Homo sapiens: one gene and its partners. The protein of the gene in region 3 purifies or fractionates together with the protein of the main gene of each other region. This does not show direct contact. Each region holds a gene or a part of one and is shown on either strand. Other genes may lie near its edges.

Evidence for each region.
Region 1: the proteins of PAIP1 (region 3) and PAIP2 purify together in Homo sapiens (affinity purification with mass spectrometry; 3 studies listed by BioGRID and IntAct, with this or other methods). This does not show direct contact.
Region 2: the proteins of PAIP1 (region 3) and PABPC1L purify together in Homo sapiens (affinity purification with mass spectrometry; 3 studies listed by BioGRID and IntAct, with this or other methods). This does not show direct contact.

The regions. Positions count from the first base shown.
Region 1 is NC_000005.10:139,365,836-139,370,234, forward strand, and holds the end of PAIP2 (polyadenylate-binding protein-interacting protein 2), read left to right. Parts: intron 1-1,360; exon of another isoform or gene 1,361-1,796; intron 1,797-2,897; coding exon 2,898-2,963; 3' UTR 2,964-3,882; downstream 3,883-4,399. UniProt on the Homo sapiens protein: Acts as a repressor in the regulation of translation initiation of poly(A)-containing mRNAs. Its inhibitory activity on translation is mediated via its action on PABPC1.
Region 2 is NC_000020.11:44,927,042-44,934,076, forward strand, and holds part of PABPC1L (polyadenylate-binding protein 1-like), read left to right. Parts: intron 1-3,418; coding exon 3,419-3,685; exon of another isoform or gene 3,686-5,300; coding exon 5,301-5,391; exon of another isoform or gene 5,392-6,015; coding exon 6,016-6,144; intron 6,145-7,035. UniProt on the Homo sapiens protein: Poly(A)-binding protein involved in oocyte maturation and early embryo development. It is required for cytosolic mRNA polyadenylation and translational activation of maternally stored mRNA in oocytes.
Region 3 is NC_000005.10:43,533,054-43,540,088, reverse strand, and holds part of PAIP1 (polyadenylate-binding protein-interacting protein 1), read left to right. Parts: intron 1-1,053; coding exon 1,054-1,165; intron 1,166-3,144; coding exon 3,145-3,270; intron 3,271-4,448; coding exon 4,449-4,555; intron 4,556-5,118; coding exon 5,119-5,236; intron 5,237-6,296; coding exon 6,297-6,351; intron 6,352-7,035. UniProt on the Homo sapiens protein: Acts as a coactivator in the regulation of translation initiation of poly(A)-containing mRNAs. Its stimulatory activity on translation is mediated via its action on PABPC1. Competes with PAIP2 for binding to PABPC1.

The DNA of each region.
Region 1 (4,399 bases), about 96 Mb from region 3:
TTTAAAAACACACACAATATTATCATGTTACTTGCCTATACAGAAGTAGCTTGATGGAGAAGTTTTGCTCTTTAATCTTGTCTTGGCTGGGTGCAGTGGCTCATGCCTGTAATCCCAACACTTTGGGACGCCGAGGCACGCGGATCACGAGGTCAAGAGTTCGAGACCAGCCTGACCAACATGGTGAAACCCCGTCTCTACTAAAAGTATACAGAAAATTAGCTGGTTGTGGTGGTGCGTGCCTGTAATCCCAGCTACCTGGGAGGCTAAGGCAGGAGAATCGCATGAATCTGGGAGGTGGAGGTTGTGGTGAACCAAGATGGTGTCGTTGCACTCTAGCCTGGGCGACAGAGTGAGACTCCACCTCAAAAAAAAAAAAAAAAAAAAAAGCGGGGTGGGGGGAATTGTGATAACTAAACATCAGCACTAGAGTGAGAACTGGCTGGGTCCACTGAACTAATCTGTACACCATGATTACCTATGAAGCATTAAATACAAAAATCAGTTCTTTAGTTACATCCCAACATGCTCAGTTGTCTGGGCATGTTAATTTTTTAAAAGTACTACAGAGGATTTATTATACAGCCAACTTGCCTGAGTCGGTCATTTGGAAACCATTCTTCTAAAGGATGGTGTAGAGAGCACTGAAGTTTACATTGTGGTATATAGCCTTTGTTGCAGTAAGTGATGGTAACCCATTTGAGCAGCTGTATGATCTGAATAGTCTGGAGGGGGGTATGATTACTTACGGCTACATTAGTCACCATAAATAATCCAGTTGCCCTGCAGAGTAACACTCTTGGCTGAGCATAATGTATAACTTTAATCTGGACCCAGTATAATTCCATAGTACAGAAGCTGGTTTGTTCTTCTCAGTCTATTTGATATTACTTTGTTTCATTCTTCTGTTGCTCCCAGAAAATTGTTCATTTAAGAACACTGTGCCTGGATGTGGTGGCTCATGCTTGTAATCCCAGCACTTTGGGAGGCCAAAGTGGGAAGATTACTTTGGCCCAGGAGTTCGAGACCAGCCTGGGCAACAAAGGGAGACCCTGTTTCTACAAAAAGTTTAAAGTTAGCTGGGTGTGGTGGCACAGGCCTGTGGTCCCAGGTACTTGGGAGGCAGAGGCCAGAGGATCACTTGAGCCCAGGAGGCCGATGCTGCAGTGAGCTGTGATTGTTCCGCTGCCCTCCAGTCTAAGCAACAGAGCGAGTCCATGTCTCAAAAAAAGAGAAAAGGAATGCTGCTTTTTTTTCTTAAACTTCACACTTTTAAAATGTAGATACATTATTTCCCTTGGGGGAAGGGAGAATATATCCTGTCCAAAGAAACTGCTATGTATAAATTACGAAACTAAAATTATTTCTTCAACATGATGTTTAATATTATGCATTAGTCTTGAAGTGATGTAGGGTCAAATTCAATGTAAAAGCCTTGCAGCATACCTACATTTCAGGCCCTGGAACCTGCCCTCATTTCTTTTTATTTTTTTCAACTTGCAGTCTAAAATATCACAGAGGAAAATTTCTAGCTGTTCTTCCTAGATGCTGACAAGTCTACTTAGGAGAGTAAAGATTTAGAGACATAGCATAACATTGGTACAAGTCTCTAAGACTCAGACTTTGGCCCATTCCCCCCCACCCCTTTTTTTTTAACTGATGCAAAAATTTGAATCCCAGAGAAAGGTGACTTATCTGAGTTTACACAGAAGTTAGTTAGGGGCAGGGCTGGGATTTCAGGCTTAGGTCTTCTGGTTCCCCATGTAGTTTTCTTTTCCTGTTATATACCATGCTTCCTGTGGGAATTAGAAGATGGCAATTGTAGAAAAACAACTCCACATTTTTAGTGAGGATTCTAAAGTAAAATCAGCAATTCCCCAGTTACTTTAATCATAATTTCAACACTTGTTTAACATGGTTCCTTGGTATTTAGTGTTTAAAGAAAGCTACATACCATAGTTCGATTAACAGAATTCCTTGTTCCGTGCTATTCCTTTAACTTATGTGAAGTTACTGGATTTCTGGTTACACTTAAGCAAACTGAATTTCAATTCCTATTTTCTCTTTAGAAAATTGATGTAATTTAGGCCGGGTGCAGTGGCTCACGCCTGTAGTCCCAGCATTTTAGGAGGCCGAGGCAGGCAGATCACGAGGTCAGATCAACACCATCCTGGCTAACATGGTGAAACCCCTTCTCTACTAAAAATACGAAAAATTAGGCCGGGCGCGGTGGCTTACGCCTGTAATCCCAGCACTTTGGGAGGCCAAGGCGGGCGGATCACGAGGTCAGGAGATCGAGACCATCCTGGCTAACATGGTGAAACCCCGTCTTTACTAAAAATACAACAAAAAATTAGCTGGGCGTGGCGGTGGGCGCCTGTAGTCCCAGCTACTCAGGAGGATGAGAGACAGGAGAATGGTGTGAACCCGGGAGGCGGAGCTTGCAGTGAGCTGAGATCGCGCCACTGCACTGCAGCCTGGGTGACAGAGTGAGACTCCGTCTCATAAAAAAAAAACTAAATAAATAAATAAAAATACAAAAAATTAGTTGGGTGTGGTGGCACGCGCCTGTAGTCCCAGCTACTCAGGAGGCTGAGGCAGGAGAATCGCTTGAACCCAGGTGGCAGAGGTTGCAGTAAGCCTAGATTGTGCCACTGCACTCCAGCCTGGGCGACAGAGCAAGACTCCGTCACAAAAAAAGAAAAGAAAAAGTTGATGTAATTTAATATGATATATAGCTTACATCTGGTTCTTCCTTTTTGGGGTTTAGTATAGTCTTACAGACTGAGTTCTTTTGTCTTTTTTTTTTTGGAAGATGTTTTTGCATGAGGATCTAGATTGAATTAGTACCTGAAACTGTGTTAATGAACTTGCTTTTTTATGTACTTATTTTCCAGGTCAAGAGCAATCTGAATCCAAATGCAAAGGAGTTTGTTCCTGGGGTGAAGTACGGAAATATTTGAGTAGACGGGGCCCTCTTTTGGTGGATGTAGCACAATTTCCACACTGTGAAGGCAGTATTAGAAGACTTAATTGTAAAAGCTCTCTTGTCACTGTGTTACACTTATGCATTGCCAAAGTTTTTGTTAGTCTTGCATGCTTAATAAAAGTGCTGAGACTGTTACTAAGTAAAAAGCTGTCAAACATTTACTGAAAATAGAATTGGCCCCATGGCTTGATGTGAAGACAGCAAGGAAAGAAGCACCAGTCAAGTTGTGAACAAGCACCAAATTAAAAGACCTAAACCTTACCAAATTGTCTTTTTTTGAGGCTAATCTATCACTTGTTAATGTCTAAACTTTAAAATCAGTACATTTAATTTGAGTTCCAACTGTTAAGCATATTTCTCAGACTTAAATTTGATTATGTCCCCATCAAAAAGAATCTCCATTTTCTGAAGGTCTGTTAGTTAATTTGAGATAATTTGTTAAAGGCAAGTATGTCATATTACTGAGGCTACAAGTTAGTCAGCAGATGAGTGCCAGTCCAGCCTTTTCTGGTATGTTATTGTTAGAAATATTGAGTTCTAATGTTACATCTGAGGAAGTATGTAATTTGAGAATTGTAACTTCTAAGGGATTCACTGCATCATAGCTATGCCTGTATGGAGTCTAACATATGACCAATACCAACCCATAATCCAGCTGAACAAAGATACTGTAACATGATTTGAGTGGTGCTTTTCCTTGCTTTGTTAACCATCACGAGAGTCTGCAGCACAACTTTTAACAAAGCTAGAACAGTTTTGGCTTCTTAAACTTCATATTTGGGTAGGTTAAGCTGCCATACGTGTTCAGTGTGAATAGTGTTTAAGTTGAAAATATTGTAAAAAAATTATATTTTTTCAAAAATATTTAAAAAAATAAATAATAGTAGAACTGAGCAGATGGTTGTGTTTATTGGTGCTGGAATGTACTGTAGTGGTGTTACTCACTTGAGTATGGGCCCAGTGCCTCAGGACAATCTTGCTGGCAAAATGTGCTAAGCTTTCAGGCTTTGTTAGATTCTAACAGGTATGTTGCCATGCAAGTACCTTTCCAGAATATAGCAGTAGAATAACTCCATTGCCCATCCTTGCTTCTTAATCACCTCAGACTTCAGTGTCAGGGGAATCCTAGATAGTCATGTAAGAAACTTTATGGCTGACCAATATGATGGTGACCTTACTCTAATAGAACCTCCATTGTTTTTTGTTCTTCACAAGGGCTTTTTTTGAGCTTATTAGGTTGAAAAAGATTAAGAGAGCCATATAGTCAGTTCTGACTCACATTCTTCTGGCAGTGGGTATGGGGGAGGTTCTTTGGTGTGGGCACCTGTACCCCAGTGTGTGGTTGGTTGGTTGGTTGGTTTTTGGAGACGGAGTCCTGCTCTGTTGCCCAGGCTGAAGTACAGTGGCACG
Region 2 (7,035 bases), on a different chromosome or scaffold from region 3:
ATTTAAAAAAAAATTTTTTTTTGGTAGAAATTGGGAGTCTTGCTGTGTTGTCCAGGCTTGTCTTGAACTCCTGGGCTCAAGCAGTCCTCCTACCTCAGCCTCCCAAAGTGCTGGGATTATAGGCATGAGCCACTGCATCTGGCCTGTATTTTGTTTTATATAAAAATAATTATGAAAATTAAAGGAATTAATGGATATAAATACTTATACCACTATCAAGTTCATGGTAAGCTCTGCATAAGTGTTAGCTTTGCTAAATTTTATCATTATTAACTACCGACTGCCAGAAGTTCTTAACAATATATATATATTTTTTTTTTTTTGAGATGGAGTTTTGCTCTTGTTGCCCAGGCTAGAGTGCAATGGTGCAATCTTAGCTCACTGTAACCTTTGCCTCCTGGGTTCAAGTGATTCTCCTGCTTCAGCCTCCTGAGTAGCTGGGATTACAGGCGCCTCTCACCATGCCCAGCTAATTTTTTGTATTTTTAGTAGAGATGGGGTGTCACTATTTTGGCCAGGCTGGTCTCGAACTTCTGACCTCAGGTGATCCACCTGCCTCAGCCTCCCAAAGTGCTAGGATTACAGGCGTGAGCCACTGTGCCCGGCCCTTTGGCTATCTGATGAAGCCTGTGGAACCCTTCTAAGAATATTTTTTAAAAACTTTTTTGAGACAGAGTCTCGCTCTATCACCCAGGCTGGAATGCAGTGGTGCCATCACAGCTCACTGCAGCCTCCAACTCCTGGCCTCAAGTGATCTCCTGTCTCAGCCTCCCAAGTAGCTGAGACTATAGGAGCACCACTATGCCTGGATAATTATTTTTTATATTACCCAGGCTGGTCTCAAACCCCTGGGCTCAAGCAATTCTTCCGCCTCTGCTTCCCAAAAATAGGCATGAGCCACCAAACCTGGCCCTAAGAATATTTTTAAATGCATAAAATAAGATTCTTAGGTGTACAAAAAAATCATACTGAAAAAATATAATGGTCAAAATACTAAAGTGAAAGCAGTATGTGCTTCTTTTATTATTTTTATTTTTATTTTTTTGAGACGAAGTCCCACTCTGTCGCCCAGACTGGAGCGCAGTGGCATGATCTTGGCTCACTACAACCTCTGCCTCCCAGGTTCAAGAACCTGGGTTCTGCCTCAACCTCCTGGGAAGCTGAGATTACAGGCACCCGCCACCATAACCAGCTAATTTTTGTATATTTTTAGTAGAGATGGGGTTTCACCATGTTGGCCAGGCTGGTCTCGAACTCCTGACCTCAGGTGATCTGCCCACCTTGGCCTCCCAAAGTGCTGGGATTACAGGCATAAGCCATTGCGCTCGGCTGAGATTAGCAATAATTAATGTGATATGAAAATATTTTCTTTTTCTTCATGACAAATTCATGGCTAATACTGCCAGGATTTTTTTGTTGTTGCCCATATTCATAATAGAAGGAAATGCTAATATGAAAATAAAGATGTCACTTTTTCCCCAATCCATGCAATTTCCCCCTAAATTGTATCCATGACCTACCTGAGGGGGATCCATGGACTCTCAGGTTAAGACCCCTCTACTGAAGGGTAGCAGAGTACAGTTTCAAAATTACTGATTAAGAGCGTGGGCTCACCAGGAGTTCAAGCCCAGCCGGGGCAACAGGATGAGACCTCATCTTTACAAAAAATGAACAAAATTAGGCATGGTGGTGCTTGTCTGCAGTCCCAGCTACTTGGGAGACTGAGTTGAGAGGATCACTTGAGGCTGAGAGGTTGAGGGTGCAGTTGAGCTGAGATTGCACCACTGCACTCCAGCCTGAGTGACAGAGTGAGATCCTGACTCAAAAAAAAAAAAAAAAAAAAAGAAAAAAAAAAAGGAAAAAAAGAAGATTTTAAAAATAACTCTAGTCCTTATGGGCTGTATGAGCCAGGCCGGTGTCTTCACCCTAAAAAAAGGTTAAAAACCCAGGGCCAGGTGTGGTGGCTCCTGCCTGTAATCCCTGCACCTTGGGAGACCTAGGTAGGAGGATCTCTTGAGACCAGCCTGGGCAACATAGTGATTGCTGATCTCTACAAACTTAAAAAAAAAAATTAGCTGGGTGTGGTGGCATGTACCTATAGCCCTAACTACTTGAGAGGCTGAGGCAGGAGGATCCCTGGAGCCCGGGAGTTTGAGGCTGCAGTGAGCTATGATCATACCACTGCACTCCAGCCTGGATGACAGAGTGAGACCCCATCTCTTTAAAAAACAAACAAATAAACAAAAAGACAAACCCTAAATGCCATGTGGGTTGGATCCTGGAAGAGAAAAAGAATATTAGGGGAAAAAAGAGTGAAATTCCAGTGAAGTCTGGAGTTCAGTTAATAGCATTGTAGTTAATAGGAGCTAATGGTATAAAATAGTTAATAGCATTGCACCAGTGTTAATTTTGTAGTTTTGAAAAATGTACCATGTTCACATTGGGGGAAACTGGGTGAAAGATATACAGCAGGCCAGGCATGGTGGCTCACGCCTGTAATCCCAGCACTTTGGGAGGCTGAGGCAGGCAGATCACTTGAGGTCAGGAGTTTGAGACCAGCCTGGCCAACATGGTGAAACCCTCTCTCTACTGAAAATACAAAAATTAGCCAGGTGTGGTGGCACACGCCTGTAGTCCCATCTACCCAGGAGGCTAAGGCAGGAGAATTGCTTGAACCCGGGAGGCTGAGGTTGCAGTTAGCCGAGATCGTGCCACTCCACTCTAGCCTGAGTGACAGAGTGAAACTATGTCTCAAAAAAAAAAAAAAAGATATATAGCAACCCTCTGTACTGTTTTTGTAACTTTTTCTGTAAATCTAAAGTTACTCCAAAGTAAAAAGGTTATTTTAACAAAAAGGCTAAGAACCTCTTCCCCAAATTCCTAAAGAACTTGGCTTGGTACTTAGCAGAGGCGATAGAAGCTTACCAGAACAATGTGTTGGGTTGAGTCCTGGCTAACGTATGAACCACAGGCTGAGTGACCCCAGACAAGTCACTCTTTCGAGTCTCTCTTATCCCGGCTGTAAAGTGGGAGCCGCGATGCCTCCCGCATCGGGAGGTTGTACATGTGAGGTGTGAAGACATGTAAAGTATCTGGCATGCAGCAGGCCTCATAGATGGGGGTGCGTGCTGCATCCCTCAAACAGCTCAGTAAACAGGGTGCACGCTACATCCCTCCATCACTCCTCAGTAAATGGGGGTGCACGCTACATCCCTCCATCACAGCTTGCTAAACGGGGGTGCACACTACATCCCTCGAACACAGCTTAGTAAACAGGGGTGCACGCTACATCCCTCCATCACAGCTTTCTCGCGGGCCTGCCCAGTGCTGGGCTTAGCCCATGGGGAGGAGGGAGGCAGCGCAGCCCCAGGAGCCTTCCTTCCCCACCCCAGCAGCTCTTGTCTTGTCTTGCTTTTAGGTGATGACAGAGGGTGGCCACAGCAAGGGGTTTGGCTTTGTGTGTTTTTCCTCCCCAGAAGAGGCGACAAAGGCCGTGACAGAGATGAACGGGCGCATCGTGGGCACCAAGCCACTCTACGTGGCACTGGCCCAGCGCAAAGAGGAGCGGAAGGCCATCTTGACCAACCAGTACATGCAGCGCCTCTCCACCATGCGGACCCTGAGCAACCCCCTCCTGGGCTCCTTTCAGCAGCCCTCCAGCTACTTCCTGCCTGCCATGCCCCAGGTGACGGCCTGCCCGCAACTCCCACCGCAGCCTTCCCCCCTGCCCCAGCAAGGCAGAGCATGAAGACTAGAGTTCTAGGGAAATGGAGGTTTCTAACTTGCTTCTGCCGAGGACTCATTAGGAAGTCTTTGTTTCCCTCTCTATAAAAGGGAGAGATAGTGTTAGTCAAATGGCATTTCCCAGTGAGAGAAGCTCGTGAATGTTGTGCTGAAAAAGACTCTTAATGATCCAGCAAGTTTGGGAAATGCTGCGTTAAGCAAGACCTACATTTTTCCTTCCTCCCTTCCTTCCCTTCCCTCCCTTCCCTCCCTTCCCTCCCTTCCCTTCCCTTCCCTTCCCTCCCTCCCTCCCTCCCTCCCTCCCTTCCTTCCTTCCTTCCTTCGTGGGGTCTCCATGTCACCCAGGCTGGTGAGCAATGGCGTGATCATGGCTCCTTCCTTCTTCCCTCCCTTCCTCCCTTCCTCCCTTCCTTCACGGGGTCTCCATGTCACCCAGGCTGGAGAGCAATGGCATGATCATGGCTCACTGCAGCCTTGAATTCCTGGGCTTGAGTGATCCTCCCACTGTAGCCTCCTGAGTAGGTGGGACTACAGGTGTGTGCCACCATGCCCAGCTAATTTTTTTGTTTATTTTAAAGAAGGGGTCTCGCCATGTTGCCCAGGCTGGTCTCAAACTCCTGGGCTCAAGCAATTCTCCTGCCTTGGCCTCCCAAAGTGCTGGCATTACAGGAGTAAGCCACCGTCCCCCGCCCTACATTTTTTTAAAAATTAAATTTTTATTTTTTTGGAGACAGAGTCTTGCTCTGTTGCCCAGAATGGAGTGCAGTGACACCATCTTGGCTCGCTGCAAACTCTTCCTCCTGGGTTCAAGTGATTCTTGTGCCTCAGCCTCCCGGGTAGCTGGGATTACAGGTGCGTGCCACCACACTCAGCTAATTTTTTGTATTTTTAGTAGAGACGGGGTTTCACCATGTTGGCCAGGCTGGTCTTGAACTCCTGACCTCAAGTGATGTGCCCTCCTTGACCTCCTAAAGTGCTGGGATTACAGGCATGAGCCACCATGATCGGCCCTAAATTTCTTTACTATCTACACTATTCTACCCTAAGATGCCAATGTCTACTGAGACTCTCCAAAACAGGCACAGATTATCCAGCATTTCCCCAGCTTAGATGGTCATTTTTTTGTGGGATGCCTGTTAACATCTCCCCTGGATGTTAATGTTCTGAGGAGCATGGTTTGGGAAAGGACCTCGTGGGACTTACAGGAAGTAGAAAGATGTCACCCATTAAAGGCCACCACGGTAAGAACATTCCTCTCCTTTTAGCAGTTGCTTAAGCTGCACAAGTTGGAGTAAGATGTCACCCTTTTTATCCAGGTCATTGGGTTAGCTGACAGGGAGCCAAGATTGAAATCTAAGATCTTTGCCCTGCAGGATTCAGGGCTAATGGACATCCTGAGATGGGAGGAAGGAGCTTTCATTACAGCCTTGTGGGTCTTGACTCACCAGTCCCTGCAGGAGCCAGTGGAGTTCCTGCCATGGTGTCCCTGAGGAGGTGTAGCTTCTCACCTACCCTGCCGCCAAGCCCCTCAGTCTGGGTCTTCTTTTCCCATGCAGCCTCCAGCCCAGGCTGCATACTATGGCTGTGGCCCAGTGACACCCACCCAGCCTGCCCCCAGGTGGACATCCCAGCCACCTAGACCTTCCTGTGAGTGACCCAGCCCCTTCCACTCTCAGACTGGCCTATTGGTGTGGGCCCCGTGAGGCAGTCATAACACAGGGATGAAACCTGGCTCTGCCACTTCCCAAGGTGGGTGACTTCACTTCTCTGAGCCTCAGTTTCCTCTTCTGAGCATGGGCCTGAATGAGACGTGTGTAAAGTACCAAGCACAGTGGTGAGCCAATGGAAGACACGCAGCTAGCCACCAGCAGTCATCACCAAAGATGCCTCTGATTTGTGACTCTGAAAATTCTTGCAAAGCTGAGAAGGTGAAATTCCTCTGGCTATATTGTTGACCAAAGGCCCTCCTCTGTAAGAGTGAATTGCACGCTCACTTGAAACTATCTTGAGGGACTAAGGTGTACAATCCTGGTGCTTATGCAGTTTGGGGCTCTAGGTAGACACGAGCTGGCTTTGAAATTGTAGATTCCTACACTCCCCCTTTCTGGAGTTCTGGGTCTAAGTGAATTGACTCCTATTTCTGTTGTGAATGTTGTAGTTTCCCTTCCCATTCTCTTGGTGGCCCTGGAAGCTTCTAGGCACAGTGTGCCACCCTGATTATTCCCACCACTCCATCCAACTTTTCTCTCTCTGTGGTGTCTGCACCACAAGCTGCCTACCCTCCAGGTGCCTCAATGGTCCGGCCACCAGTTGTGCCTCGGCGCCCCCCGGCCCACATCAGCAGTGTCAGGCAGGCCTCCACCCAGGTGCCACGCACGGTGCCTCATACCCAGAGAGTAGGTGAGTGTGGGTAGGGCCAAGGGGAATGGGGGTGGGGCAAAGTTGGCACTAGGAGTCAGGACCAGCCTCCATGGTGACCTTGCCATATGCCCTCTCGGTGAGCAAAGCTGACTTTGGAGACTGTAGCGTGGTAGTTAGCTTGGCCTCCAGTTCCTGGGACCAACTGACTATGAGGCCCTTGCTGACTACTATATCTGTCACCTAATCTTTAAAATGGGGACAAAAATAGTACCCCCATTTTATTGTAGAGAATTTAAATGTTTTTTTTTTTCTTTTTGAGGCAGAATTTCATTCTTGTTGCCCAGGCTGGAGTGCAATGGCATGATCTCTGCTCACTGCAACCTCCGCCTCCCAGGTTCAAGCGATTGTCCTGCCTCAGCTTCCCAAGTAGCTGGGATTGTAGGCATGCGCCACCATGCCTGGGTAATTTTGTGTTTTTAGTAGAGACGGGGTTTCTCCATGTTGGTCAGGTTGGTCTTGAACTCCTGATCTCAGGTGATCCGCCCACCTCAGCCTCCCAAAGTGCTGAGATTACAGGCATGAGCCACTGTGCCCAGCCTTAATTTTTTTTTTTTTTTTTTTTGAGATCGAGTCTTGCTCTGTCGCCCAGGCTGGAGAGTAATGGTGTGATCTCGGCTCACTGCAACCTCTGCCTCCGGGGTTCTAAGCGATTCTCCTGCCTCAGCCTCCTGAGTAGCTGGGATTACAGGCATGCGCCACCATACTTGGCTAATTTTTGTATTTTTAGTAGGGACAGGGTTTCACCATGTTGGCCAGGCTGGTCTCGAACTCCTGACCTTAGGTGATCCACCAGCCTCGGCCTCCCAAAGTGCTGGGATTACAGGCATGAGCCACCATGCCCGGCTTGTTGTTGAGGATCAATGAGATCAT
Region 3 (7,035 bases):
AGTCAATTACTGAACAAGAGGTAATTTATTTTTTCTTTGTTAAAAATTGTTTACAAAGTCAACCTAAACTGGCTGCGTGGAAACCATTCAGTACCCATAGCTTTTCCCTTTGTCTTGAAAAGGAAAACTGTCAAAACCAGTTTTGTGAAGCAAGTTACTTTCCCAGAGTTTTCTCACCTTATCAATAAAGATTACAAATACTTAATAACAAAATGATAAACTTTTACAGTCCATTTAAAAAATCTATGTTAGTAACAATATCTGACACTGTAGTTCACTTATGAAGGCAGTGACAGGATTATTGTGCCTAGTTTAGTTACCTTGTAGGAACTATGACTGACAATAAGCTCCAAGAAGAGGATTTCTTCTTTTTCTCCTCTGTGTGAAGCAAATGGGTCAAGTCAGGGGCAAAGAGAGCAAGGAAAAATCAGTTATTTGAAGCTGTCAGTCTCATTGGAAATAGAAAACAAGTCCGGTGCTTTCTATATTGTGGTTTTAATGGGGGAATTTTTTCCTCACATTAGTACTTCTCTGATACGTATAATGGAAATTACAAGAATAATGGACTTAAAAACAATTCATTTTATTTTCAGTTGGAGGTTGTGTGTGTGTGTGTGTGTGTGTGTGTGTGTGTGTATTTAAAGATCCTTTTCAAAGTTGTAGTATTAAAAAAAAAATTACAGAGACAATTTGGGTAAAATCAGTGCTTTCTTAGTAAAAAACCTATAAGACAAGGTGAGGCTCTCTCTCCCCTCTTTGGGCTGCCAGTATGCTGTGAATCAGATTACACCTATGTTGCTTAAACATATTAAATTTGATAAAAATCGTTGAAAATAAAACTATCAGTTTTTTCAAACTGGGAGACTTAGTATGAAAAGATGGTGTATATTCTAGCCTCTTCAATAGTCAGGAACAGTTTCTTTATTGTAGAAAGAGCATTGGGACATTGTCCTTGCCTCTTGCTGTGGACAACCAAACTGACAAATGGTTATTTTGTTTGACTATTTAAAAAGCAAAGCAATGTGAGATTATAAAAGATATGTCTTTAATTAGATGTCGGACTGAATATGAAGTTAAAGATCAAGCTGCAAAAGGGGATGAAGTTACTCGAAAACGATTTCATGCATTTGTACTCTTTCTGGGAGAACTTTATCTTAACCTGGAGGTGAGAAGTTTTTCTTTTGTTAAGTACTAACAAGGCCTGAGAACATAAGTTGATCTCAATGAGGAATTTGTGTTCACATTGTACTTTTACAACATTAAGAGTGAAATGAAAGAGAGAGGAAAGAAAACATGTTTCGGCACCTGCTAGTGTCTGTGGTTTACTGGACCGTCTGTCCATAACATTTACTCATGGACAGAATGTTAGGAAATAATTACTGAGGTAAAAATCTGCGTACTTTTAGGAAGCTGTGGTTTACATGCAAATTTAAGTTCTTGAGATATCAACAGTGATACCTTTTTGAGTTCTTACATCTTATATATTAATACATTTAGTATGTTGACTTTCAGATGGTGGCTCAAAGCAGTTTACTCTGCAGAACTCTGAGTGAAAAGAGAGACTAGAGTCTCTCTAGGCTTTTCACTCTAATTCACCCAAATAGTTTTTTAAAAATATTTTTTTAATTGACAAAAATTATATCTTTATGGTACACAACACTTTGATATATGCATACATCGTAGAATGGCTAAATCAAGCTATTTAACATATGCATTACTTGACATACTTTTTTGTGTTAAGAACACTTAAAATTTTTAGCAGTTTTCATGTATACAATATATTGTTAACTATAGTCATCATGGTGTACAAGAGATCTCTTGAACTTATTCCCCCTAAATGAAATTCTGTGTCCTTTGACCAACATCTCCCCAATACCCCAACCCCTAAGAATAGTTCTTTTTTGTCCTATTTTATATATTAATCTTCCACATAAAAATGCATTTGTACAAAGTCTACAGCTAAACGTATTTATAAATTTGGGTGGTATACTTAAGTATATGCTTGTTAGTAGGCAATAGAAGTGCTGGATTCAGCACGGCATTATTACTGTGTAATAGATTTGCTTGATTTTTTTTTTTTTTTTTTTTTTTTGGGTGGGGACAGTCTCGCTCTGTCACCCAGGCTGGAGTGCAGTGACGTGATCTCGGCTCACTACAACCTCCGCCTCCCGGGTTCAAGCGATTCTCCTGCTTCAGCCTTCTGAGCAGCTGGGATTACAGGCACGTACCACTATGCCTGGCTAATGTTTATATTTTTAGCAGAGATGGGGTTTCACCATGTTGGCCACGCTGGTCTCAAACTCCTGACCTCAGGTGCTACCCGCCTCAGCCTCCCAGAGTGCTGGGATTACAGGCATGAGCCACCATGCCCAGCCTCTGCTTGATTTTTTAAATTAGTGAATATCAGATATAAGCTTATACCTTCTTACACCCTGATTTGAGAACTTAAGATCGTAAACGCCATAATATCAGAAACATCATAAGACAATGTGAATCTATCAAATGTGCATCTCAGTCATTGTATCTAAAAGGTCTATGTCCAGTCCAGAGCCTAACTTACTATGCCTTTTTACCACAGGTAGACTTAGTTTTTTGAAAAATCTTATGCCATGTTCTTTTTCAGTCTAATTTTTGTTTAAGCCAAAATATGGACAGCAATCTAAAATAAATACTGTTGAGCATTTTCTATATGGAGATAATGATGCTAGGTCAATGGGGGATGTAAAGATAAGGCTTAGTTCCTGCACCTAAAATTCTTCTACACAGTGATATAAGATACATATACCACTCTGATGCAAAATACCATATTTTAAAATATTTTAAAAGCAGAATAAAATGCTGTGTGTTCAAAAAAAAGTGGTAGTTGAACAAACTAAAGAAAGCTTTATGAAGTAGTAACATCAAAGTGGGCTTAAATTATGCTGACTCTGGTATTAAATTTTACCCATAGCTTACCAGTTTTATTAGAGGTCTTAGTTACATATAAAGTAATTCTAACAAATTCTGTGAAGATATCAGAGTGTGTTCCTGTGACTTTTGTGATTTAGCTAAAATGCTTATTTTGCCAACACCTTGTTAGTTCATTTATGTATCTGTATTATATTTTGGCATCATTCCTTTTGTTCTTTTTTTTGGTCCCGAAAGATCAAGGGAACAAATGGACAGGTTACAAGAGCAGATATTCTTCAGGTTGGTCTTCGAGAATTGCTGAATGCCCTGTTTTCTAATCCTATGGATGACAATTTAATTTGTGCAGTAAAATTGTTAAAGGTAGGTTTTTTTTTTTAATTTAACTAATTTACGTATTTACTTATGATTTAGAGGAAGGTTAGTCTATATAGTATACAGATGAATTCAAGATTTATCACTTTAAGGTAAATATTGACATTTTACTTTTTTCTCGAATATTTTGGAAAAGCGAGATATACTTATTGTTTAATATATGAAGCAAGTTCAGAAGTGAAAAATGGAAGTCCTTTACGCCATTTCCATTTGCAAATTCTGTCTTCTTCCCTTCTTATCTCTGTATATGTGCTCTTATTAAATAAGATCTTACTCTGTTCTGGCTTTTTGTTTTTGTTTTTGCCACCTAATGAAACATCTTAGATTTTTCCATGGCACAGAGATTTACCTCTTTTATTGAATAACTTCCTAGTATTCTGTCATATGCATATGCATTGTTTATCCATTCCGTAACATCTATCAATGTTTACTAATGAATATTTGGATTATCTTCAGTTTAGCCATGGCAGCATTGCTTGTAATCTTTCCTCTTGTCATATATATGTGCAGATACTTTTGTAGGTTAAATTCTTAAACACGGATTTGGTGGGTGGACGAGCATATGTATTTTACGACAAGTAATGGCTAATTTGCCTTCCAAATGCTGAACCAGAGTATAGCCCCATCAGCAGAATGAGTACATCTCTTCCTACATCCTTATAGTGATGGATATAATCAATCTTGGTTTTTGTTTTGTCAGATGATTTTAAGCATTTCTTCATGTTTATTAGCCATTTGTTTATTATTTCCTATAAATTACCTGTTTAAATCCTTAACTGATTTATTTCCTGATGAAATGCATGTTTGTGTTTTTTTTTTTTATTCAAAGCTTCTATACTTGTTGCTTGCTGTATATTTCAAAAAAAGTGACATGTTCATTAAAATCTAATAGCCTATCTTAGTCATACAGGGAATATAACAGTCGTTGACATAAAACCCATGATTAAAGTTCTGCTATTGTTTTTTTTGTTTTAGTTTCTCTCAGTCAAGAGAAATATAGAGGGCGTAGAGATCACTGAATATTAGATGGTAGACAGAATAATTAGGAATATTAAACTTGCTAAATTCATCTTGTTTAGAGAATGCTTGAACTGTTACTGGTATCTTTTTAGAATTTCTATAATACACTATTGAATTTCTTATTTTACTGACACCTGCTTTTTTAGTTGACAGGATCAGTTTTGGAAGATGCTTGGAAGGAAAAAGGAAAGATGGATATGGAAGAAATTATTCAGAGAATTGAAAACGTTGTCCTAGATGCAAACTGCAGTAGGTAGGAAAAGAAGTAATGTAAATAGCCAGTGCATCTCAATTTCTTGCTTTTTCTTTGGAGATTGTTTTTTAATTTGCTATACTTCAGCAGGGTAAGTTGATGGCTAACGGATATACAAAAATGCTTTTCTTTAAAGGAATAATATTTTACCTATAGTTTCTGCTCACTAGACATTTTTGTGATAGACGTGTCAGATATTTTTGCTCAATTACATTTAGAAATTGAAAAAGCTAATTTTCTTAAGATATGAATTAAATGAAAAACAAAATCCAAATATTAACTGTCCAACAAATAAAAGTACTACTGTAAGTATAGTAGGACACATAAAAATGTTTGAAGGATAGCCACTGCCTTTAAGGTCCATATAGTCATAGTTACGTGGAACATAATTCAAGGCTATTTTTTTTTTAAATGAATTTATGTCATATAGGAAACGTCTAGAAAGTCAAGGCATCAGATGTACCTGTTAAATTAAGGAAATAAAGTTTTGGGAATCTGAGATATTTTAGGGTCTGACAGCCCTTATGGTGGATACACTAACTCATTTTCAACTTTGTCTACAGAGATGTAAAACAGATGCTCTTGAAGCTTGTAGAACTCCGGTCAAGTAACTGGGGCAGAGTCCATGCAACTTCAACATATAGAGAAGCAACACCAGAAAATGATCCTAACTACTTTATGGTATGCCAGTGTTTATATTTTAAGTTTTACTTATTGCTTGAATTCCGTTTTGGAAATTAGAAGAGCTACATAAAGCTGTTCTCAGAATTCAGTGCCTAATAACTGTCTTCACTGGCTTTGAGTGACATGGCAGCCATCAGACTGGGTAAAAAAGAAAAGAGACCTGGAATTCTCCAGTGAAAGGGTGGACTAGAGAAAGATATATCCAATGGCAAGAGAGATTGACAAGGCTTGGACTTAAGTGAGCACAGGGATGCCAGGAAGCAGCTTTTCCAGAGAATTTATAACCAAGGACCTGCATCTCAGACTTTTACTTTGCATGTTGTAGTAACGAAAAATAAAATAAAATTGGTTGGCTGGGCGTAGTGGCTCACACCTGTAATCCCAGCGCTTTGGGAGGCCAAGGTGGGCAGATCACCTGAGGTCAGGAGTTCAAGACCAGCCTGACCAACGTGGAGAAACCCCGTCTCTACTAAAACTACAAAGTCAGCTGGGCGTGGCAGTACTTGCCTGTAATCCCAGCTACTCGGGAGGCTGAGGCAGGAGAATTGCTTGAAGCCTGGAGGCAGAGGTTGTGGTGAGCTGAAATCACGCCATTGCACTCCAGCCCAGGCAACAAGAGCACAACTCTGTCTCAGGGAAAAAAAAAAAATGGCTACTAGGCCAGTGATGCCCTGAAGCTCCTGACATGAACAAACATAAAGCAGCTGTGGAGAAATGTTCCTCCAGCCCTGGTCCTGGAAATTCTTAAAAGAAATGGTGGGGTTGGAAACCACAGCTAAAAATGCACTGACACTAAATGACAATGCACAACAGAACAGTTCACTGAAAGACAATAGACAGCACCGTTAGAACCACAAGAACTTGAGATAATGGCATGGAAATCTGAAAACCATAGACTTTCTCAGTGAAGTGAAAATGGCTACCAGGAAGTTAGGTTCCTTTGCTTGTTCTTGCATTATTAGGTGCAGACGGGTGACATCAGCCATGCTTCATTATTGTACTTACAAAAATCAATTCTGAAATGATTACATATTTTTATCACTTTGATTCATCCTAGAATGAACCAACATTTTATACATCTGATGGTGTTCCTTTCACTGCAGCTGATCCAGGTATGTTGTCTCACAGTCATTCCCTCCTCCCAGTTGTTTGGTAAAGTAGTAAATTTACAGAAAACCACATCCTCACCAGCACAAGATTGTAACTTTTTGATGTCTTCACATCATTCTAAAATACCAGTGTAATGGTTTGTCTAATATAGAATGCTCTTCATAGTGACCACTTGAAACATTTCAAATGAAAGTATGATTCCACATATAATGTCTTGTCACTTAACAACAGAGGATGGGAAGAATTCTCAATTAAATGCAACTATTTTAATTTTATATTTCCTCTAACTTTTTTATAATCTTAAATTTTCAGGTGATTAGAATGGAGGGGAAAGACGATTCTAGTTCACTGCATAGTCAGCAACATATATTAATATGGGTTAATACTTTACACGAAGAATTACACATTTCATTCATACTTGGTGTGTGACAGTTAATTAAAATCCAAATCTCTGCACATTTCCTCTTCCAGAAGAGGACCATTTATAGAAAGATTGCCTTAATTGTATTAGATGGAACTGTAGAGTGAGGAAGAGAAATTTTTCCCTTTGGTACAAACTGCAACCAGCTTATGGTTGGAATTTTTCCATTTGTTTCCTCTGGATTCCAAGCATTGACTGTCCTGTGTCTCTAGCACAGAGAAGTTTTTTTAGGGCAAGGAAGTAGAATTAAGTTACACGCTATGGG